Regions from separate parts of the Homo sapiens genome. Here all the other regions are linked to region 3. Evidence: fine-mapped expression QTL. A gene starts in region 3. Each other region holds a variant in brackets. All regions are shown on one strand. Distances are between the middles of the regions. Region 1 overlaps THRA (thyroid hormone receptor alpha). Region 2 overlaps WIPF2 (WAS/WASL interacting protein family member 2). Region 3 holds the start of CASC3 (CASC3 exon junction complex subunit).

Region 1 (8,051 bases), 57 kb before region 3:
GAAGAAACTGAGACTCAGAGAAGTTAGGCAATTTTCTTGTGAGTGACAGAGGAGGGATTATGAATGAGCAAATGAACGAATGAGTAAGGTCAGGAATTTGAGACCATCCTGGCCAACATGGTAAAAGCCTGTCTCTACTAAAAATACCAAAATTGGCCAGGTGTAGTGATGTACGCCTGTAATCCCACCTACTTGGGAGGCTGAGGCAGGAGAATCTCTTGAACTTGGGAGATGGAGGTTACAGTGAGAGTGGAGATTAAGTCAGTGTACTCCAGCCTGGGTGACAGAGCGACAGAGTGATACTCTGTCTCAAAATAAAAAAAAAAAGAAACAGAATGATTTATATGTTAAAGGCCAGGTATAGTAGCTCACGCCTGTAATCCAAACACTTTAGGAGGCCAAGGTGGGAGGATTGCTTGAGCCCAGGAGTTTAAGAACAGCCTGGGCAACATAGTGAGACCCTGTCCATACAAAAAAATTTTTAAAGTAGCCAGGCATGGTGGTGCACACACACCTGTGGTCCCAGCTACTCAGGCAGCTGAGGTAGGACGATCACTTGAGGCTGGGAGGTCGAAGCTGCTGTGAGCTGTGATTAAGCCATTGCACTCCAGCCTGGGCGACAGAACAAGACCCTGTCTTAAAAACAAAAAACAAACAAAAAAAAAAAACGGAAAAAAAGTTTAAGGCTTGAAGTTTCTCTCTCTTTCTTGATGTCAACCAAACCAAGACCATGAGGGATTTAGAGTTCCCTAGCAGAAGCAATACAATCCTTCTGGAAGCAATACAAACAGTGTAGCATAGAGAAAGGATCTTTTACTCTCACGGACATCTGAGTCCCAGGGAAGCACCCTGAAAAGACAGAGATGCCTTGGCCCCACCCTTGGATAGTTTTATTTTGTAGTTCTGGAGTGAGGCCCAGGAATCTGTATCTTTGGTAGGTGCCTTTGGTGACTTTTTTTTTTTTTTTTTTTTTTCAAGACGGAGTCTCACTCTGTCACCCAGGCTGGAGTGCAGTGGCGCGATCTTGGCTCACTGCAACCTCTGCCTCCCAGGTTCAAGCACTTGTCCTGCCTCAGCCTCCTGAGTAGCTGGGATTACAGGTGCCTGCCACCTCACCTGGCTAATTTTTTGTATTTTTAGTAGAGACAAGGTTTCACGATGTTGGCCACGTTGGTCTTGAACTCCTGACCTCGTGATCCACCCACCTCAGCCTCCCAAAGAGCTGGGATTACAGGCGTGAGCCACCGCACTCGGCTGCCTTTGGTGATTTTAATGCCCCTGGAATCTGAGAGCTCAGACGTTGGTGTCCCATACCTGAGGCCCAGTTCTGACTCTGCTGCCCACCGGCCACATGACTTTGGGCAAATTGCTTCATCTCACCAAGCTTCAGTTTCCTTGTCTGCAAAGTGGAGGCAGTAACAGTTCCTACCTCATAGGGTTGTCTGGAGGGTTCACTGTGATGTTCCATGAAAGACAAGGCTTATCTTTTGGGTTTTTGTTTTTGTTTGTAATGGGGTCTCTGTCACCCAGGTTGGAGTGCAGTGGTGCGATCATAGCTCACTGCAGCCTTGACCTCCTGGTCTCAAGCAATCCTAAGCAATCCTCCCACCTCAGCCTCCAGAGTAGCTGGGATTATAGGTGCACGCCACAACCCCTGGCCAATTTGTGTATTTTTAGTAGAGATGGGGTTTTGCTATGTTGGACAGGCTGGTCTTGATCTTGAACTCCTGGCCTCAAGTGATCTGCCTGCCTCAGCCTCCCAGAGTGCTGGGATTACAGGTGTGAGTCATTGCACCTGGCCAGCAAGGCTTATGTTTACTAAGTGACTGACACATTGTAAACATGAAAAAATACTAATTCTTCATATTATTGCAATCATCTTGAGTTTTGAGGTGTTTCCTTTAAAATAAAGGCGAGGCTGGGTGCGGTGGCTCACGCCTGTAATCCCAGCACTTTGGGAGGCCGAGGTGGGCAGATCACCTGAGGTCAGGAGTTCGAGACCAGCCTGGCCAACATGGTGAAACCCCATCTCTATAAAAATACAAAAATTAGCCGGGCGTAATGGTGGGCACCTGTAGTCCCAGCTACTCGGGAGGCTGAGGCAGGAGAATTGCTTGTACCTGGGAGGTGGAGGTTGCAGTAAGCTGAGATCACACCACTGCACTCCAGCCTGGGTGACAGAGTGAAACTTCATCTCAAAAAGAAAAAAAAAATTAAATTAAAAAAATAAAATAAAGGTGAATCCCAATGTAGAGAATTGAAATTTTTCTCTTCCCCTACTAGAGTTCATACTCAGTCCCTTTCCTTGACTTTTTTGGTTCCCCTGTTTTATGAATTCCACCTGCATGGACAACAGGCAACATATATGAGAATGGTTTTTGGGTCAGTGTTGTTTTTAAAGTCATTTAGCAAAATGGAAAATGAGGTTTTACTTGGATTTCCTTTTTTTTTTTTTTTTTTTTTTTTGAGACAGAGTTTTGCTCTTGTTGCCCAGACTAGAGTGCAATGGCACAATCTTGGCTCACCGCAACCTCTGCTTCCTGGGTTCAAGCAATTCTTCTGCCTCAGCCTCCCAAGTAGCTGGGATTACAGGCATGTGCCACCATTCCCGGCTAATTTTTTCTTTTTTTTTTCTTTTTTGAGATGAAGTCTCACTCTTGTCACCCAGGCTGGAGTGCAATGCGAGCTCCACCTCCTGGGTTCAAGCGATTCTCCTGCCTCAGCCTCCCGAGTAGCTGGGATTACAGGGGCAGGCCCAGCTAATTTTTATATTTTTAGTAGAGATGGGGTTTCACCATGTTGGCCAGGCTGGTCTTGAACTCCTGACTTCAGGCAGTCTGCCCGCCTGGGCCTCCCAAAGTGCTGGGATTACAGGCATGAGCCACCGCGCCCGGCCAAGGGGTGGACCCCGCCGTGGTTCCACCGCGGCTCAAACCTAGGACCTTCTGCATGTAAAGCAGATGTGATAACTGCTACACTATAGAATCGCATGCTTTTTTTTTTTTTTTTTTTTTTTTTTGAGATGGAGTCTCATTCTGTCACCCAGGCTGGAATGCAGTGGCGCGATCTTGGCTCACTGCAACCTCTGTGTCCTGGGTTCAAGCAATTCTCTGCCTCAGCCTCCTGAGTAGCTGGGATTACAGGCGCCCACCACCACGCCCGGGTAATTTTTTTTTTTTTTATACGGAGTCTTGCTCTGTCACCCAGCCTGGAGTGCAGTGGCGCGATCTTGGCTCGTGGCAAGCTCCACCTCCTGGGTTCACGCCATTCTCCTGCCTCAGCCTCCCGAGTAGCTGGGACTACAGCGCCCACCACCATGCCCGGCTATTTTTTTTGTATTTTTAGTAGAGACAGGGTTTCACCGTGTTAGCCAGGATGGTCTCGATCTCCTGACCTTGTGATCCGCCTGCCTCAGCCTCCCAAAGTGCTGGGATTACAGGCATAAGCCACCGCGCCCGGCCTACGCCCAATTTTTATACTTTTAGTAGAGACAGGGTTTCACCATGTTGGCCAGGGTGATCTTGAACTCCTGACCTCATGATTCATCCGCCTTGGCCTCCCAAAGTTCTGGGATTATAGGCATGAGCCACTGCACCCAACCTCATGCCCGGCTAATTTTCTATTTTTAGTAGAGACAGGGTTTCTTCATGTTGGTCAGGCTGGTCTCGAACTCCCGACCTCAGTTGATCTGCCCACCTCGGCCTCCCAAAGTGTTGGGATTACATGCGTGCGCCACCGCGCCCGGCGACTTGGATTTCCAAAGCTGCTATTCCTTAAGGCCTCACATTATCCCAGGTTCAAAGCTGCCTGCTCTAGACATCATTCCTGCCTCTGCCACAAACACTACCCAGACACCCCCAACCCCTCAGCAGCCTGGGGGCTGAGGGCATATATTTCTCAGGTCCTTGAGCCTAGTAATCTTGGGCTCATGGTGTCAGGAGGATGCCAGGTCCCCTCACTGATCTTGCCTTCCTTGCTCTCCACCCCTGACCCCTAGTAAACTGCATGGTTGGTTCAGGAAGGGGAAGCCATGTCATGATCACAGCCTGCTCCATCTCCCCCACCCCAGGGCTTCTTTCGCCGCACAATCCAGAAGAACCTCCATCCCACCTATTCCTGCAAATATGACAGCTGCTGTGTCATTGACAAGATCACCCGCAATCAGTGCCAGCTGTGCCGCTTCAAGAAGTGCATCGCCGTGGGCATGGCCATGGACTGTAAGGGGCCCAGGTGGAGGGAATAGAGCCAGGTGGCCTGGGGTGGGGATGAGTTCTGGGAGGGCAGCTTCCTTCCAGGGTACCCTCAGAGCCCACAGGGCAGAGTGGCAATCCAGTCTAGGTCAGAATGTTCAGTGTCTTGGTCCTTGCTGTCCTCCTTCCTGCGCAAAAGGAAACAGGATCCCTGTGTGGGCCCCAATGCCTACCTGCCTTACAACACTCGAGGGCCTTAGAGAGGGAGTCGTTTGGTAGAAAGAGCTCCTGGGCACCCACTCTAGCACACTGTTCTTGACTCCCAGCGAAGGCACCCCACTTCTAGATGAGACAGGGCATCTTCCATTGGCTGGGGATTGGGTGGCAGGATATTCGAGTAACCACCGTCACCATAAT[C/G]CGTTAGACCAGAACATGATATTCATCTGGATCAGCCCAAACTGTTGTTGACATGGTCCCGGGGATTAATCATGATCCGGGTTGTGCTGCCCAACTGCTAGGTGATTTGGGAAGTCATTTAGCCTCCATGGCCCTCGGTTTCTCCAACCTGTACTCTAGGAAGAGTAGTTTCCGGGAGCATTATGGAAAGGGGATGGAGGGTGCCATGCGTTAGACCTTGTGCCTCTCTGTTCACAGTGGTTCTAGATGACTCGAAGCGGGTGGCCAAGCGTAAGCTGATTGAGCAGAACCGGGAGCGGCGGCGGAAGGAGGAGATGATCCGATCACTGCAGCAGCGACCAGAGCCCACTCCTGAAGAGTGGGATCTGATCCACATTGCCACAGAGGCCCATCGCAGCACCAATGCCCAGGGCAGCCATTGGAAACAGAGGCGGAAATTCCTGGTAAGGAGAAAGGGGGCATGGGGAGAGCAGTAGCCAGGTGGCAGGGAGAAGAGAGTGAGCTCGGAGTCTTGCCTCCTCCAGGAAGTCTTCTTAGTGTAATCCAACCCAAAATACATACTCTTCACACTTTTGCTGTCCAGATTTTATACACTTGTGTTTGTGTCCTTGCTGTCTGGACTGTCTACTCCATCCAACTGGGAGCTCAATGAGGACAGGGCCTTGCCTTCCTCATCGAATTTCCAGGGAGCGGGAGCGACCTTTCTTCTTTTTCCTGCCCTTAGTGACTGGGAGGAGAGGGTAAGGATACAGTTATGTCACAGTATTTTTGAGCACCTGCTGGGTGCCAGGCATTATGTTAGGCCCTGGTCAAGCTAGTTGCTAAGTAAATGATGAGTTTGGGACCAGGTGCAGTGGCTCATGCCTGTAATCCCAGCAATTTGTGAGACCAAGGTGGGAGGATCGCTTGAGCCCAGGAGTTTGAGACCAGTCTGGGTAACATACAGAGATCCCACCTCTATGAATAATTTTTTTTTTTTTTGATACGGAGTCTCACTCTCACCCAGGCTAGAGTGCAGTGGCACGATCTCGGCTCACCGCAACCTCCGCCTCCTGGGTTCAAGCGATTCTCCCGCCTCCGTCTCCCGAGTAGTTGGGATTACAGGCACTGGCCACCATGCCTGGCTAATTTTTGTGTTTTTAGTAGAGACAGGGTTTCACCATGTTGACCAGGCTGGTCTCGAACTCCTGACCTCAAGTGATCCACCCGCCTCGGCCTCCCAAAGTGCTGTGATTACAAGATGTGAGCCACCATGCCCACCCTCTATGAATAATTTTTTTTTTTTTTTGAGTTGGAGTTTCGCTCTTGTTGTCCAGGCTGGAGTGCAGTGGCACAGTCTTGGCTCACCGCAACCTCTACCTCCCGGCTTCAAGCGATTCTCCTGCCTCAGCTTCCCAAATAGCTGGGATTACAGGCGTGCGCCACCACGCCCGGCTAATTTTGTATTTTTAGTAGAGACGGTGTTTCTCCATGTTGGTCAGGCTTGTCTGAACTCGCAACCTCAGGTGATCTGCCTGCCTTGGCCTCCCAAAGTGCTGGGATTACAGGTGTGAGCTACTGCTCCCGGCCTCTCTACGAATAATTTTAAAATTAGCTGGGCATGGGGGTGTGTGCCTGTGGTCCCAGCTACTCGGGAGGCTGAGGCAGGAGGATCCCCTAAGCCTGGGAGGTCGAGGCTGCAGTAAGCCATGATTACACCGCTGCACTCCAGCCCAGGCAACAGAGCAAGACCCTCTCTCAAAAAATATGATCAGTTTGGGAGGAGATGGACAGTTGGCTATACGTGGTGAAGGAAGGCAGAAAACCAGCACCTGGTTCATGGTGGAGCATGCCGGGGGGTGGCACAGTGCACACTGTTAAGGGCACGGGCTCTGATTCCAAGCAGATGTGTAACAGTCACGAGTCAGACTGCCCAAGTTCAAACCCTGGTCCTACCACTTGCTGGTCATATGACTTTAACCTTATTATTTAGCTGCCCCATGCCTCAGTTTCCACATCTGTGAAATGGTGATTATTATAATTATTCCTTTTAGGATTATGGTCAGGATGAAATAAGACATGTAAAACATGTAGCCTGATGCCTGATCATATATTAAGTATTCAGTCATTATAGCTGCTACTACTGTTACTACCGTTGTTATTATTAGCTGACTTGGAGCTCTGGTTCTGGTCTATTCTCTGCTCAAGATGAAGGAAAAGCTTTGGGCCTGGGACTCAGGCACGGGCGGCCCCTCTTCCCCAAGCTGCCTTGGAGCTCCCCCTGGTGGGCAGGGAGCCTCAGTGAGAGGCTGAAAGGGGTCTGCGGCCCCAGCTGACCCCCGTCTTTCTCTCTAGCCCGATGACATTGGCCAGTCACCCATTGTCTCCATGCCGGACGGAGACAAGGTGGACCTGGAAGCCTTCAGCGAGTTTACCAAGATCATCACCCCGGCCATCACCCGTGTGGTGGACTTTGCCAAAAAACTGCCCATGTTCTCCGAGGTGAGTGGCAGAAGTGGGGAGAGATGTGATGCTGTGCTGGAGGGAAACCTGCTCCCCCGGTCACCCAGTACAGGCTCATCTGAGGTTCTCTGGACAAGGAGCAATTCCTGTAGGTCAACATACACAGATAACATACACAGACACACACACACACATGCATACACATACACCCAGCACACAGGCACACATGCAGACACATACACGGACACACACACACACCTAGCATACAGATACGTACACAGACACACATACACACACACATACACCCAGCACACAGACACACACACACCTAGTACACAAACACACACACAGATACATAGAAACACACACAGACATATACACCCAGCACACAGACACACACACACACACAGACACACACCCAGCACACAGGCACACACACACACACACCTAGCACACAGCCACACAGATACATAGACACACACACACAGATACAGACACACACACACACACAGACATATACACCTAGCACACAGACACACAGATACATAGACACACACCTAGCACACAGACACACACACACAGACACACCCAGCACACAGGCACACACACACACACACACCTAGCAGACACACACATAGATACATACAGACACACACACAAACACACAGGCACACACACACAGCATACAGACACACGCCAAGGTCTGGCTGCTCTAAGAAATCAGCCGGCTCCAAGTGCTCCCCTCCACAGCCCCTCATCCTTCAAGTCTATGCGGCCACCCAACTCCAGGCAGCCTGAAAGTTCTCATTTTCCAGAGCACTAGTGCTGGAGACAGGCTGCCCTACTAGCCATGTGACCTGGGGTAAGTTACCTCCATCCCCTGTGCCTCAGTGTTCCCATCTGGAGTGGGCTGGGGATAATGATGGGTGCTAACTCACAGGCATAATTTTTTTTTCTTTTTTGAGACAGATTTTCGTTCTGTCACCCAGGCTGGAGTGCAGT
Region 2 (8,051 bases), 86 kb after region 3:
TAGGCATGCACCACCACGCCCAGCTAATTTTTTGTATTTTAGTAGAGATGGGGTTTCACCATGTTGGTCAGGCTGGTCTCGAACTCCTGACTTCAGGTGATCCACCCACCTCGGCCTCCCAAAGTGTTGAGATTACAGGCATGAGCTACCACACCTGGCCGCATGTTTAGTTTTTTAACTCTTATTAATGTCAACTTTTAAAAGTAAAAATTTCATATTGTGTTACATTGGTTGCCATCAAGATGAAGATAGGGAAGTTAAGAGTTGGGGAAGGTGGAGATGAATGAAGTCAATTGATGAAGACTAGTAGAATGTAGTGTTTGTTTTTTTATTTGTTTATTTATTTATTTTGAGACAGAGTCTTGCTGTATTGCCCAGGCTGGAGTGCAATGGCACAATCTTGGCTCACTGCAACCTCTGTCTCCTGGGTTCAAGCAATTCTCCTGGCTCAGCCTCCCAAGTAGCTGGGATTACAGGCATGTGCCACCTGGCTAATTTTTGTATTTTTAGTAGAGACAGGGTTTTGCCATGTTGGCCAGGCTGGTCATTTACTAATTCCACCTCACACTTGATACTAGAGTAGTGTTTACCCTAGCTGGTACTGATAAGTTATGTGATAGCACCAAGGTGAAATGCAGGAGAGGTGTGAACATTGGAGTTTTCAGGTTTTACTGATGGCTTTTACGAAGGGAAGAGATTCTAGACTCACTAGGTGTTTTTAGGAAAAAAAAAAGGCAAGAGGCAAGAGACAGAAGTCTTGTTCTGTTGAAGAGAAAATTTTTTTTTGGGTTTTTTTTTTTTTTTTTTGAGACGGAGTCTCGCTCAGTTGCCCAGGCTGGAGTGCAATGGCATGATCTCTGCTCACTGCAACCTCCACCTCCCAGGTTCAAGCGATTCTCCTGCCTCAGCCTCCTGAGTAGCTGGGTGCCATCACGCCTGGCTAATTTTTGTATTTTTGTAGAGACGAGGTTTCACTGTGTTGGTCAGGCTGGTCTCGAACTTCTGACCTTGTGATCTGCCAGTCTCGGCCTCCCAAAGTGCTGGGATTACAGGCGTGAGCCACCGCGCCCGGCCCGAGAAAATTATTAAATGTTCTTTCTTTACTTGTGTTCTCTGATTGGGAGAGTAACCTGGTATATGTTAGTCTGTTTTCCTGCTCTGAAATAACTGTGAAATTCATGGGCTCTTGGTTCAGGCAGCTTCAGCAAACATAGTCTTCTTACAACCCCAGGAAGAGTTGCAGGCTACAAAATATATGTACTTATTTGGGAGTAAAAACCTGCTTAATATTATGCTATTGCAACCTACAGTGTACCTTTTTGGTTTGTTTTTTAAGGGGATTTTGAGATAACATATGGAGGCTCGGTGCTCCTGGGCGGACTTTTGGTACAGCCTGCTTATTTTTTTTTTCTTTTCTTTTCTTTTTTTTTTTTTTTTTTGAGACGGAGTCTCACTTTGTCCCCCAGGCTGGAGTGCAGTGGCGCAATCTCGGCTCACTGCAAGCTCCGCCTCCCAGGTTCACGCCATTCTCCTGCCTCAGCCTCCTGAGGAGCTGGACTACAGGCGCCTGCCACCACGCCCGGCTGATTTTTTGTATTTTTTTTTTTTTTTTTTTTGTAGTAGAGACGGGGTTTCAACTTGTTAGCGAGGATGTCTTGATCTCCTGACCTTGTGATCCACCCGCCTCGGCCTCCCAAAGTGCTGAAATTACGGGCGTGAGCCACCGCGCCCGGCCCAGCCTGCTTCTTTAACATAATGATTTTCCATTTTTCCTATCCTGTCACAGTTTTCCGTTGCTCTGCTTGAGCCAGTCCTATGTAGAAAGTGGCAAATTACACATTTTTTCTCCCCTTTTAGTCTCTGGTGGACATCTTGTCTGTGTCACAGTTTGATACTACCAAATTGAAAGGATTCTTCACTGCTTCAGATGGGGAGGGTGACAGAAGCTGAGCTGTTTCCTGGGTCAGATAATGGCCTCTGTCAAAGCAAAGAATAGTTGTAGAGACACAAACTGGGCCCTTGAAGCTGTGACTAACATTTTGGCAACATGCATCCCTTTGCCAAATAACTTCTTTTCTTCTTGAGTGTGATTGTTGATCTCCTTCTCAAAGTAGGCTCTTGTTGCTACTATTCTTCACACAACTCCCAAGCAAAAGTTGGCAGAGTTCCGGTTGACTGACTGTGTCTTGAGGGATATGCCCCGGATTAGAGTGGATGGGGCGTTCCATGTCAAAATGAGGTTCATTGGCAGATCCTGAGAGCTGCTTTGCAAAGAAATAGAGGCAGTACTCTTTACTGAATGTTCTTGCGGTCCTTTATCTTTCTTCTAAATTCAAGTCTGTTTCTTATTCATCTAGTGATTAAATGCAGAATCATTGCCTTTGCCTAGCTTCGTGGGCATTGTGGAAGAGAAGACAGTATTTCCAACTTTTTTTTTTTTTTTCTTTTCTCACAAGCCATTGAGCCTGAGGAACTACAGGCTAAATTTATGAGCATTTCTTGATATCTACAGAGGGCTACTAAAAAAAAAATGCTGAATAGACCTTTATGGGGAACAACAATGTTAATAGGAAAAAAAGGTGATATGTTTGCTAATGTCTATGTCAGTCTTAACTCTCTTTAAGATTTTGGCTCATTTTGGCTTAAGAGCCTGCAGAAGTATGTAAGTTATCAAATAGGGGAGCCAGGAATTGGTTTCTTCCTTGCCATTTAAGCTTGGCAAAGTTAGAGCAATTTGGAATGGCTATCCAACAATGTGTTCTACTTAGTAAATACTCTCTTGTTTTTCAGGGGATAGTTAGCTAAAGGTAGGGTTATCTCCAATATGTTTTGGGATGGATCGTGAAGATCATTCCCTTTTTATTTTGAGACAGGATCTCTCTCTCTTGCCCAGGCTGGAGTGTGGCGGCGTGATCTGTAGCCTCGACCTCCCCAGGCTCAGGCTCAGGTGTTCTTCCCACTTCAGCCTCCTGTGTAGCTGGGACTACAGGCGCACGCCACTATGCCTCACTAATTTTTATTTTTTGTAGAGATGGGGTTTCGCCATGTTGCCCAGCCTGGTCTTGAACTTTTGCCGGCCTCCCAAAGTGCTGGGATTATAGGTGTGAGCCACCAGGCTCAGCCATTATAATTGATTTTCAAAAAAAATTTAGTTTCTTAAGCTTCATGGATTCAAATTGAGTGCCATTTGGATTTTGAGGCCCCTCAGTGGAAATAATTTGTTTTTAGCAAGTAATTATGATATTTCTAAAGTGCAAATTCACTGACCTACTTTCTGTGCTTCTGGAAATGCTGAATCGAATAATCTTTTTTTTTCCTCCCAATAATCCCTCTGACTGTGAAAACATTCTCCATATGTATTCAGATTGGGATAGTTGGTAAAAAAAAAAAAAAAAAAATTTTTTTTTTTTTGAGATGGAGTCTCGTTCTGTCGGCCAGTCTGGAGTGCAGTGGTGCGATCCCAGCTCACTGCAACCTCCACCTCCCGGGTTCATGCGATTATCCTGCCTCAGCCTCCCGAGTAGCTGGGATTACAGGCGCACACCACCACACCCGGCTAATTTAATTTTTTTTTTTTTGTATTTTTAGTAGAGACGGGATTTCACTATGTTGGCCAGACTGGTCTCGAACTCCTGACCTCGCGATCCGCCCACCTTGGCCTCCCAAAGTGCTGGGATTACAGGCATGAGCCACTGTGCCCGGCCTTTGGAATTTTCTTCTAAGGTAGTACACTAGTATGAGATGCGATGTCTGAGATTTGTGGATAAGTGGACTTTTCCTTCTTCCATTCCTGCCCTCCCAGTGCTCACCTAGTAGGGAGGATGTTTATTATCTAAGATCCAGATGTGAGACATTTAAACTGCTTCTTTCCTTGTCTTAGAAATAAGAACAGAACTGTTTTTAGCAAATTTTATTTTTTTAATTTTTTAAATTTATTATTATTATTTTTGAGACTGAGTCTTGCTCTGTTGCCCAGGCTGGAGTGCAATGGCACAATCTCGGCTCACTGCAGCCTCTGCCTCCTGAGTTCAAGCGATTCTGCTGCCTTAGCCTCCTGAGTAGCTGAGATTACAGGTGCACGCCACCATGCCCAACTAATTTTTGTATTTTTTAGTAGAGGTGGGGTTTCACCTTGTTGCCCAGGCTGGTCTTGAACTCCTGACCTAGTGATCTTTCCGCCTCAGCCTCCCAAAGTGCTGGGATTACAGGCGTGAGCCACCACGCCCAGCCTATTTATTTATTTTTTTTTGAGACAGAGTTTCACTGTGTCAGCCAGGCTGGAGTGGAGTGGCAAGATCTGGGCTCACTGCAAGCTCTGCCTCCCAGGCTCAAGCAATCTCCTGCCTCACCGTGTCAAGTAGCTGAGATTACAGGTGTGTGCCACCACGTCCAGCTAATTTTTGTATTTTTAGTAGAGACGGGGTTTCACCATGTTGGCCAGGCTGGTCTCAAACTCCTGACCTCGTGATCTGCCTGCCTCGGCCTTCCAAAGTGCTGGGATTACAGGTGTGAGTCACTGCTCCTGGCCACAAATGTTATATTTTAAATAAATAATACAAAATTTAAAAGATAAAAAAGTATATAAGCAGGATGGTGGCCATGGAAGTCAGAATCCACTAAGGAGTATGTATCAACTCACCTGCCAAGAAAAAGAAAGTATATAGTGAATACCCTTGGAAACATCTATGTTTGTCTTCCTATCAATCCAGTTCATCTTCCCAGAGGCAACTCGTATTATTATTTTCTTTAGATCTGTTCCAGGCTGGTTGCG[G/A]TGGCTCACACCTGTAATCCCAGCACTTTGGGAGGCTGAGGCGGGCGGATCACCTGAGGTCAGAAGTTGGAGACCAGCCTGGCCAACATGGTGAAACCCTGTCTCTATTAAGAATATAAAAATTAGCGGGGCATGGTGGTGTGTGCCTGTAGTCCCAGTTACTCGGGAGGCTGAGGCACAAGAATCACTTGAACCTGGGAGGCGGAATGGTGAGCTAAAATTGTGCCACTGCACTCCAGCCTGGGTGACAGAGCAAGACTTTGTCTCAAAACAAAACAAAAAACAAAAAAAGTTTGTTCCAGAGATACCAGGTACATATAAAGCAAATATGTATATTTCTTGTTTTTTTTTTTGTTGTTGTTGTTTTAATAAATGTAGCACACTGTTAATACTATCTGTATCTTTTGCTTGTTTTTATACCTCTTTTTGTTTTTTTTTTTTTTTTTTTTTTTGAGACGGAGTCTCGCTCTGTCGCCCAGGCTGGAGTGCAGTGGCGGGATCTCGGCTCACTGCAAGCTCCGCCTCCCGGGTTCACGCCATTCTCCTGCCTCAGCCTCCCAAGTAGCTGGGACTACAGGCGCCCGCCACTACGCCCGGCTAATTTTTTGTATTTTTAGTAGAGACGGGGTTTCACCGTTTTAGCCGGGATGGTCTCGATCTCCTGACCTCGTGATCCGCCCGCCTCGGCCTCCCAAAGTGCTGGGATTACAGGCGTGAGCCACCGCGCCCGGCCATTTTTATACCTCTTTTGACTGTTACTCCCTATCAGCAATAAAGATACTTGGCACCTACCTTACACTGATAGACATACACAGTTTCCAGTCTTTTGCTATTACAAACTATGCTGCAGTGAAGAAGCATATATATTTGGCTCTTTGCATATATGACTGTGTCTGTAGGGTAAATTCTTAGAACTAGAATTGCTGAAGCTGATTTTTTTTGATGTTCGTTATTCATTTATTCAACAAGAATTTTTGAGTTCCTACTGTGTGCCAAGTACTGTGGTAGGGGATGCAGGGGATGCAGATAGGGCAGTGAACAAATTTTCTTGGTCTTTTTTTTTTTGAGACAGAGTCTCTCTCTGTCACCCAGGCGGGAATTTAGTGGTGCAAACATGGTTCATTGTAGCCTCAACCTTCTGGGCTCAAGCAGTCCTCCCACCTCAGCCTCCTGTGTAGCTGGGACCACAGGTGTGTGCACAATTTTTAAAATTTTTTGTAGACGTGAGGTCTCACTTTGTTGCCTAGGCTGGTCTTGAACTCGGGCTTAAGCAGTCCTCCTATCTCGAAGTGCCATAATTACAGGCATGAGCCACCACACCTGGCCCTGACTTGGTCTTCCACTTACGGTGGAAGACTTTTTTTTTTTAGACAAGGTTTCATTCCCATCTTGGCTCACTGCGACCTCCACCTCCTGGGCTCAAGTGATTCTCTTGCCTTAGCCTCCTAAATAGCTGGGACTGCAGATGCATGCCACCATGGCTAATTTTTGTAGTTTTTGTAGAGGTGGGGCTTTGCCAAGTTGCCCAGGCTGGTCTTTTTTTTTTTTTAGATGAGTTTTGTTCTTGTTGCCCAGGCTGGAGTGCAATGGCATGATCTCAACTCACCGCAACCTCTGCCTCCCGGGTTCAAGCGATTCTCCTGCCTCAGCTTCCCGAGTAGCTAGGATTACAGGCATGCATCACCACGCCCGGCTAATTTTGTATTTTTAGTAGAGACGGGGTTTCTCCTTATTAGGCTGGTCTCGAACTCCTGACCTCAGGTGATCCGCCCACCTCGGCGTCCCAAAGTGCTGGGATAACAGGTGTGAGCCGCCGCACCTGGCCAAAGACATTTATTCATTTATTTATTTATTTGTTTTAGACAGAGTCTAGCTCTATTAGCCAGGCTGGAGTGCAGTGGCATGATCTTGGCTCACCGCAACCTCTGCCTCCCAGGTTCAAGCCATTCTGCTGTAGCCTCCCAAGTAGCTGGGACTACAGGTGCACCACCATGTCTGGCTAATTTTTTCTGTATTTTTAGTAGAGATGGGGTTTCACCATGTTGGCCAGGCTGGCCTCAAAACTCCTAACCTCAAGTGATCTTCCTGCCTCGGCCTCCTAAAGTGCTGGGATTGTAGGTGTGAGCCACCGTGCCTGGCCCAAAGACATTTATTAAACAAATAATTATTACTGTTGCTGTAAATGCTGTGGAGACAGCTAATGGTTAGCCCATCCCAGGTTGATTGAGAGGAAGGGCAGTCAGAGAAGGTCTCTGAGGAATTGACTTTTAAGGGTGAAACCTAAGAATGAAGGGAGGACAAAAGACTGACCTAGGTAGAGGAGATGGCACAGGTGAATGTCCTGAGGAGGGAAAGAATGTTTGTATTTTGAGGAATTGAAAGAGGTTCCAGTGTGGCTGGAGCTTAGGGAGTGAAAAACAGACAGGTAGGAGGCAAGGCTTCAGAATGTGAGCTGTCCTAAAAAATGGGTAAATAGGCTGGCATGGTGGCTCATGCCTGTAATACCAACACTTTGGGAGACCAAGGTGGGAGGATCACTTGAGCCTAGAAGTTCACAACCAATCTGGGCAACATAGGGAGACCCCCCAGTCTCTATATAATTAAAATATTAGCTGGGCATGGTGATGAGCACCCGTGGTTCTAGCCGCTCAGGAGGCTGAGGGAGGAGGATCACTTGAGCCCCAGGAGAGGGAGGTTGCAGTGAGCTGTTGCAGCACCACTGCACTCCAACCTCGGAGACAGAGTGAGACCCTGTTTCAAAAAACAACAACTAAAAGAGTAATAGGATAGTGAATTTTGAGGTCAGCTTCTAAAATAGGGCTTTTTTTTTTCCTGTCAGTTCTTTTACTAGTGTTGATGATGAGACCATCAGTGTCATAAAGAAGTCTGATGCTTGTGCAGTGAAACAGTTTTTATAAGAACTTTCCTGGATGAAACCTATTCTTTTAGTCTTGATTTCTCATAGGTCCTGCAAATCAAACTTGGTTGGCTGGATTAGCTCTTAAAATTTTAGGATCTTAGAAATTGTTTTGGAGATTAGGCTTATTGGGGAACAATTTTTAGATTATGGGGGATGATGGGATTGTTAGTTTACCAGACTTGCTATTTAGGAAACAGAAAACCTATTTACTTTTAGTGGGAGGAGCAGGGAGGAGTGTTTAAAAAAAGAAAAAACTTATTTACTGTTAGGGAATGTTGACTGTTTTAAAAATAATCTTCATGGTGCTAGGGAGAGAACAGATGTTCTTTTATTTTGAACCGATGAATATACTGTCATACC
Region 3 (8,051 bases):
TGCAGTTCTCCTAAAACATAGTTGTTTGTTTTTCTTTAACAAAGTTTAAGCTAGTGTTAATAAATTAAAAAAAATTGCTTGTCTGTCTACTTCAGCTTTGTTTTATGCCCATTTCATATTGTTGTCTGTGTTGTAATTCATAACTTTTGATACCATTTCTGATGTGTAAAATTGGTTGTCTTGTAAATATCTTATAAAGAGTTCAATTGTAAATAAACTATTGTGGCTGTTAATTTTTGAACTTCTGCTTCAATTTATTATATTTATTGGCAAACAAACAATTCTGCTTGTATATTTGAAACATTGGAAAAAGAAATCCATTTTCTCAATAAAAAAGAATAACACATTATTTTCCCCTTTATAATAAGGTACTCACTTCCATTTGTGTATAAGTATAATGTATGTTTCATCCCTCTTTGTCCAGTGTACTTCCTTAAGTATAATCAGCAACTTGGCTGGGCGCAGTGGCTCACACCTGTGATCCCAGCACTTTGGTGGCTGAGGTGGGCAGATCACTTGTGGTCAGAGGTTCAAGACCAGCCTGGCCAACACAGTAAAACATGGTAAAACCCCATCTACTAAAAATACAAAAATTATCCAGATGTGGTGGCATGCACCTGTTATCCCAGTTACTTGGGAGGCTGAGGCAGGAAAATCTCTTGAACCTGGGAAGTGGAAGTTGTGGTAAGCCAAGATCAAGCTGCTGCACTTCAGCCTGGGTGACAGCGAGACTCCATCCCACCCACCCCCAACAAAAAAAAAGGGTCGGGCGTGTTGGCTCACATTTGTAATCCCAGCCACTTTGGGAGACTGAGGTGGGTAGATCACCTGAGGTCAGAAGTTCGAAACCAGCTTGGCCAACACGGTGAAACCCTGTCTCTACTAAAAATAAAATAAATTAGCCAGGCTTGGTGACAGGCACCTGTAATCCCAGCTACTCGGGAGGCTGAGGCAGGAGAATTGCTTGAACCCAGGAGGCAGAGGTTGCAGTGAGCCGAGATCATGCCATTGCACTCCAGCCTGGGTGATAGAGGGAGACTCCAACTCCAAAAAAAAAAAAGTATAATTAGCAATTTTAGAAACGAGATTATAGGATACTTCGTAAGTTAACAAAATCTTATAGCTGGAAAGACATTAGAGGTCATCTAGTGTGACCCCGATATGTGATTTACCCTTGATAACACTCCAGACAAGCAAATTCCAGGCTGTGCTTCAACACTTTTTCTACATACATTTTTCCCCCTAAGTGTTTGAAAATTCTTGCTTGTTGACAAAAAATCTAACTTCTTGTAACTTAAACTCACTGGTTTTTGCTTTGCCTTCTAGGATGATGAAAAAAAGACCAATCCCTCCTTTCTTCATAGTCCCTAGTTAAAGATTGCTGTGGGCTCCAGGCCCGGCGCGGTGGCTCAGGCCTGTAATCCCAGCACTTTGGGAGGCCAAGGCGGGTGGATCACGAGGTCAGGAGTTCAAGAGCAGCCTGACCAACATGGTGAAACCCCGTCTCTACTAAAAATACAAAAATTAGCTGGGCGTGGTGGTGCGCGCCTGTAATCCCAGCTACACAGGAGGCTGAGGCAGGAGAATCGCTTGAACCTGAAAGGCGGAGGTTGCAGTGAGCCCAGATCGCACCACTCCACTCCAGCCTGGGCGACAGAGCGAGACTCCGTCCCCCTCAAAAAAAAAAAAAAAAACTGGACCCAGACTAAACAACTGAAGGACAAAGTGGCAGACTATCACTTTCCTTATTTAGACACTAAACTTGGCAGCCTTATTTGCACCAATTTAGTCTGTGATCGATAAGATCCTCCAGGTTCTTTTTCTTTAACACTTATTAAATCATATTATCCTCCATTTTGAACTCAGGCAGTTGGCTTTTGGAGCTGGACTTATAAGTTGTCACGTTTGGCCACTTGTCTAATTAGCTGAGATTGTTTGAATTTTCTTTTTTTCTTTTTTTTGAAACAGAATCTCTTTGTCTCCCAGGCTGGAGTGCAGTGGCGCGATCTCGGCTCACTGCAAGCTCCGCCTACCGGGTTCACGCCATTCTGCCTCAGCCTCCCGAATAGCTGGGACTACAGGCGCCTGCCACCACGCCCGTCTATTTTTTTTTATTTTTAGTAGAGACGGGGTTTCACCGTGTTAGCCAGGATGGTCTTGATCTCCTGACCTCGTGATCTGCCCGCCTCGGCCTCCCAAAGTGCTAGGATTACAGGCGTGAGCCACCGCGCCCGGCCTTGAATTTTCCTTTCATCTCTGAAGGCATTCATAATTACTTCCAGTTTCATGTTATCTATAAATTTGATAAACATCAGGATCCTTAACCATGTCATTTATAAAAATTTTACTCAGGAAAGGCCGGGCGCGGTGGCTCACGCCTGTAATCCCAGCACTTTGGGAGGCCAAGAACGGCGGATCACGAGGTCAGGAGATCGAGACCATCCTGGCTAACACGGTGAAACCTCATCTCTACTAAAAACATAAAAAGTTAGTCGGGCCTGGCGGCAGACACCTGTAGTCCCAGCTACTCGGGAGGCTGAGGCAGGAGAATGGCGTGAACCCGGGAGACGGAGCTTTCAGTGGGCCGAGATCACCCCACTGCACCCCAGCCTGGGCGACAGACAGAGTGAGACTCCCTCTCAAAAAAAAAAAAAATATTTTACTCAGGGAAGAATTCTATGCCATGGTGGCCTTTGTTTGATAACATACATTATTAACGTGCACTCCTGTAGGTGCACTAAAAACTTAGCTCATGCACTTTGTATATCCTTATAATGGTCCAAAGAAAACACACTGATTCTTTTCAATGGTGGCCAATGCCTTGCCAAAATGAAATAATTTCCATAAACCTTAAGAAGGAAATAATGTCAGGATTTTGAATCAACATCTGTTTCTACTGACCATTTATTTTTAAATAGGTTCTAAAATCCTGACAAGGGCAGTAGCTCATGCCTGTAGTCCCAGCACTTTGGGAGGCTGAGACGAAAGGATCGCTTGATCCCAGCCAGGAGACAAGCCTGGGCAAGAGCGAGACCCCATCTCTACAAAAAACAGAAAAATTAGCCGGGTGTGGTAGTGTGTGCCCGTTGTCCCAACTACTAAGGAAGCTAAGGCAAGGAGGTCACCTGTGCCTGGGAGGTCAAGGCTGCAGTGAGCCGCGCTACTGCACTCCAGCCTGGGCAACAGAGTGAGACCCTGCCTCGAAAAAGCCAAAACAAAACCGGTAATACTGGCATCATACCAGCCTGCACTTTGGGACAGGTGATGGCTGGGGTGGGAAGAAACGTGAAGAGGAAATGAGAACACAGAGAAAACGCTGCAACAAGAAGTCCTCTGGCTTCACTGCAGACAACTGGTTTCTCCTTCGCCCGTTATCTTAAACAAGGCTGGTGCAGCAAATCTGACGCAGCACTACAGCTTTTAAGATTTACCTTGATTCGTGATTTTACCAAGCAAAGGAATGCAGTAAATTGACCTGCTTCAAACGTAGGTAGAAGTGAGAAATGGAAACAGAAAACCATGAAACAGCCCTAGTGTTGCAGTGAAGCTGTGACAGGTTGACTCCTTCCACTCGGGAAGCCCAAGATGGCCGGGCCAGGAACCCGGGAGGCTGCTGAAGTCTCAATTCCCCTCGCCCTAGGCCTGCCCAAGGGAAGTCAGGAGCCGCGCCACGCCCCCTTACATCACCGATAGACGTAATCCGGGTCGGCCGCAAACGTGCCGCAGGCCTAGGCCCCGCCCAGTGCCCCGCCCCTCCCCCAACACACACACACACACACACACACACACACACCCCAACACACACACACACACCCCAACACACACACACACACACACACACACACACACACACACACACACACACACACACACAGCGGGATGGCCGAGCGCCGCACGCGTAGCACGCCGGGACTAGCTATCCAGCCTCCCAGCAGCCTCTGCGACGGGCGCGGTGCGTAAGTACCTCGCCGGTGGTGGCCGTTCTCCGTAAGATGGCGGACCGGCGGCGGCAGCGCGCTTCGCAAGACACCGAGGACGAGGAATCTGGTGCTTCGGGCTCCGACAGCGGCGGCTCCCCGTTGCGGGGAGGCGGGAGCTGCAGCGGTAGCGCCGGAGGCGGCGGCAGCGGCTCTCTGCCTTCACAGCGCGGAGGCCGAACCGGGGCCCTTCATCTGCGGCGGGTGGAGAGCGGGGGCGCCAAGAGTGCTGAGGAGTCGGAGTGTGTGAGTGCGCGCAGGCGGGGCGGGGTGGGGACCGGGCGGCGAGCCGGCCGGGGGCGGGGTGTAGGTGATGCTAGGTAGTCTGTGAGTTGATAGTAGATACTGGGACTTTTTTTTGTTTTTGAGAGAAAAGGGGAGTTATCCCAATGCGAGTTTGCATCCGGAGTTCCAAGGGAAGAAGAAGGATTGGGGGTTTCTGGGAGGATGGTAGAGCCGCTGGAGATGGAAAGCGGATGTTTTATTCAGAAGTCGGGGCTGGAGGGAAGGAGACCAGACCTGCCTTGGCTACTACTTGATAAAGATTTACCTATCTCTGTCTCCCTCTCCAACCATTTTGTGCTGAATCTTCAGCTTTTCACCCACATTTCTTTATTGGGCTCCCCACCTCTGGAAATCACAGAACTAACCCATGTCTTCTGCTTTCTTTCAGGAGAGTGAAGATGGCATTGAAGGTGATGGTGAGTAGCATCTTTTACCCCATTAGGACAAGAGTTTTTTTTAACATAAACTCAGGTCATCTATTTCCAACATCGACATTCTCACACACTGTCACGGATTTAGGGCCACAGAGTGCCTTTTTGTAACATAGTGGTTAAGAGCATAGGCTTTAGCAGTATAGTCTTCAGCAAGTTACCCTCTGAGCCTGTTTCTCCTTTTGTAAGTGGGGACTATAATTTTATCCACGTTGTAGGTTGATGTCAGAATTAAATGAGACTCTTAGTCTGACCTGTAATAAGCAGCCAAAAAATGTTTCTGGGTTTCTTTTTTTCCACATATTTCTGTTTTATTTCAGCTGTTCTCTCGGATTATGAAAGTGCAGAAGACTCGGAAGTGAGTATGACAGGTTTTTTCCTATGGTATAGATCAGAAATGCTTTTTAAAAACGTGTACACACCTTCGTTGCAAACGTACCATGACCTCCGTGTTTATCCTCTTGTGTATTCTTCATTTATGCTTCTGAAAAAGTGTTACAGAAGGTCTTGTTCACTTTAGACCTAGGGAAAACTTGGGGCACGCCGTCTCAAGCCACAGGTGTTATACTGTTAGTTGGCTTCTCTTCCTGTCTGAAGAATATGAGGTTCTAAATAAGAGAGTGAGGATATCTTGAAGTCCTCTGAAAGATGTTTGACAGTTTGTTTTATGCAGTGTAGGTTGAGAAGCCAGCCAATTGGTTATTTTTTTCCAAATCTATCTGAAGACTTTGAAAGGGTAGGATTCGGAATGTTTTGTGCCAAGAGCATCCATCATTTTATAGGTGGGGATTTTTCTGTTTTTAGGAGAAAGTTTCCTGTCTTTTGGATAAACTACTAGAGATGCCATCAGAGTAAGTGTTTGTTTCCTGGGTTGTTGAGTGGACTCCTGAGTTCTGGTAATGGGATTATATATAGGGGGAATTGGATGGTGGATCAAAGATTTTGTCTATACATTTTTAGAACTGTTACTACATTTTAGAATCTGTTAAGCCCTTGAGGATGGAATAGTGAACACTATAACAAAATTCCTATCTTTAGAGATCTTACAACTCAATAAGGAAGTCAGACAAACATTCAAGCAATTGTACCACTTGCTGATAGGGGATAGCACTGGGATAGGGCTAAGTAGGGTGTTACAGCTGGGTACTGAATCCATCTTAGGCAGTCGGGAAAGATTAAACAGTTGGCTGGGTAAGATGTGTTCTAGGCAGAGAGAACAACAGTCAAGAAAGCCCACAGGGGCCGGGAGCAGTGGCTCACGCCTGTAATCCCAGCACTTTGGAAGGCTGAGGCAGACGGATCACTTGAGGCCAGGAGTTTGAGACCAACGTGGCCAAAATGGTGAAACTCCATCTCTGGCCCGGCGCGGTGGCTCACGCCTATAATCCCAGCACTTTGTGAGGCCCAGGCGGGCGGATCACGAGGTCAGGAGATCGAAACCGTCCTGGCTAACATGGTGAAACCCCGTCCCTACTAAAAATACAAAAAAAAATAATAATAAATTAGCTGGGCGTGGTGGCGGGCGCCTGTAGTCCCAGCTACTCGGGAGGCTGAGGCAGGAAAATGGTGTGAATCCGGGAGGCGGAGCTTGCAGTGAGCTGAGATTGTGCCACTGCACTCCAGCCTGGGTGACAGAGCAAGACTCCGTCTCAAAAAAAAAAACCCATCTCTACTAAAAAATACAAAAATTAGCTTGGTGTGGTGATGCATGCCTGTAATCGCAGCTACTTGGGAGGCTGAGACACGAAAATCGTTTGATCCCAGGAGATGGAGGTGGCAGTGAGCTGAAATCATGCCACTGCACTGCTACCTGGGTGACAGAGTGAGACTCTGTCTCAAAAAAAAAAAAATAAATAAATAAAAGAAAGGCTGTAGGGGTACAAAAAGAATAGTAATTAGAATGAATAAGATCTAAACCCAGCGCGATGGCTCACACCTGTAATCCCAGCACTGTGGGAGGCCAAGGTGGGCCAGTCACTTGAGGCTAGGAGGTCAAGACCAGCCTGGCCAACATGGCAAAACTCCATCTCTACTAAAAATACAAAAATTAGCAGCTCATGGTCCCGCATGCCTGTAATTCCAGCTACTCAAGTGGCTGAGGCAGGAGAATCCCTTGAGCCTGGGAGGTGGAGGTGGCAGTGAGCCATAATCACACCACTGTACTCCAGCCTGGGCAACAGAGCAAGACTCTTGTCTCAGAAAATTTAAAAAATAAAAATGACTAAGATCTAGAATTTCATATTTGCAACATGGTGACTACAGTCAACCAGTAACTTATTGTACATTTAAAAATAACTATTGGCTGGGCACAGTGGCTCATGCCTGTAATCCCAGCACTTCGGGAGGCTGAGGTGGGTGGATAACAAGGTCAAGAGATTGAGACCATCCTGGCCAACATGGTGAAATCTCGTCTCTACTAAAAATACAAAAATTAGCTGGGCGTGCTTGCACGCCCCTGTAGTCCCAGCTACTCAGGAGGCTGAGGCAGGAGAATCGCTTGAATCCGGGAGGCAGAGGTTGCAGTGAGCCGAAATCAAGCCACTGCACTCCAGCCTGGTGACAGGGCAAGACTCCATCTCAAAAAAAAAGTATATATATATATTAATAAAAGAACGTAATTGAATTGTTTGTAACAAAGGATAAATGCTTGAGGCGATCCATACCCCATTTACCCTTACATGATTATTACACATTGTATATCTATATAAAAATATCTCATGGGCCGGGCTTGGTGGCTCACACCTGTAATCCCAGCACTTTGGGAGGCCGAGGCGGGTGAATCACCTGCGGTCAGGAGTTCGAGACTAGCCTGGCCAACATGGCGAAACCCATTTTCAGTCTCTACTGAAAATAAGAAAAATTAAGTAGGCGTGGTGGCAGGTGCCTGTAATCCCAGCGACTCAGGAGGCTGAGGCAGGAGAATCACTTGAACCCAGGAGGTGGAGGTTGCAGTGAGCCAAGATTGTGCCATTGCACTTCATCCTGGGCAACAAGAGGGAAACTCTGTCTCAAAAAACAAAAACAAAAACAAAACTCATGTACTACATAAATATATACCTACTGTGTACTCAACAAAAATTAAAAACTTTCTTTTTCTTTTTTTTTTTTTGCTTGAGATGGAGTCTTGCTCTGTAACCCAGGCAAGAGTGCAGTGGCATGATCTTAGCTCGCTGCAACCTCCACCTCCCGGGTTCAAGCGATTCTCCTGTCTCAGCTTCCCAAGTAGCTGGGATTACAGGTGCACACCACCACACCCAGCTAATTTTTGTATTTGTAGTAGAGACGGGGTTTTACCATGTTGGCCAGGCTGGTCATGAACTCGTGAACTCAGGTGATCCGTCCGCCTCAGCTTCCCAAA

The links. PIP is the estimated chance that this variant, and not a neighbour inherited with it, causes the effect.
Region 1: its variant is the best candidate, but not a certain one, in a credible set for the expression of CASC3 in whole blood (INTERVAL, PIP 0.86).
Region 2: its variant is the best candidate, but not a certain one, in a credible set for the expression of CASC3 in whole blood (INTERVAL, PIP 0.75).

What each region holds. Positions count from the first base shown.
Region 1 is chr17:40,079,766-40,087,816 of GRCh38, forward strand. THRA (thyroid hormone receptor alpha) reads left to right here. Exons shown (of 9, transcript NM_199334.5): 5 at 4,070-4,217; 6 at 4,845-5,050; 7 at 6,942-7,088. Among named protein-coding and RNA genes, the nearest start is that of NR1D1, 17 kb to the right of the region's middle. The variant C/G (reference allele first, on the strand shown) is at 4,608.
Region 2 is chr17:40,222,811-40,230,861 of GRCh38, forward strand. All of the region lies in intron 1 of WIPF2 (WAS/WASL interacting protein family member 2), which reads left to right. Among named protein-coding and RNA genes, the nearest start is that of WIPF2, 7.5 kb to the left of the region's middle. RefSeq lists an enhancer at 1,717-2,288. The variant G/A (reference allele first, on the strand shown) is at 4,772.
Region 3 is chr17:40,136,557-40,144,607 of GRCh38, forward strand. It overlaps CASC3 (CASC3 exon junction complex subunit), which reads left to right and starts at 3,981. Exons shown (of 14, transcript NM_007359.5): 1 at 3,981-4,223; 2 at 4,651-4,678; 3 at 5,014-5,051. The coding sequence starts at 3,993. It overlaps MSL1 (MSL complex subunit 1), which reads left to right. Exons shown (of 9, transcript NM_001365919.1): 9 at 1-361. RefSeq lists enhancers at 3,592-4,532, 3,998-4,297.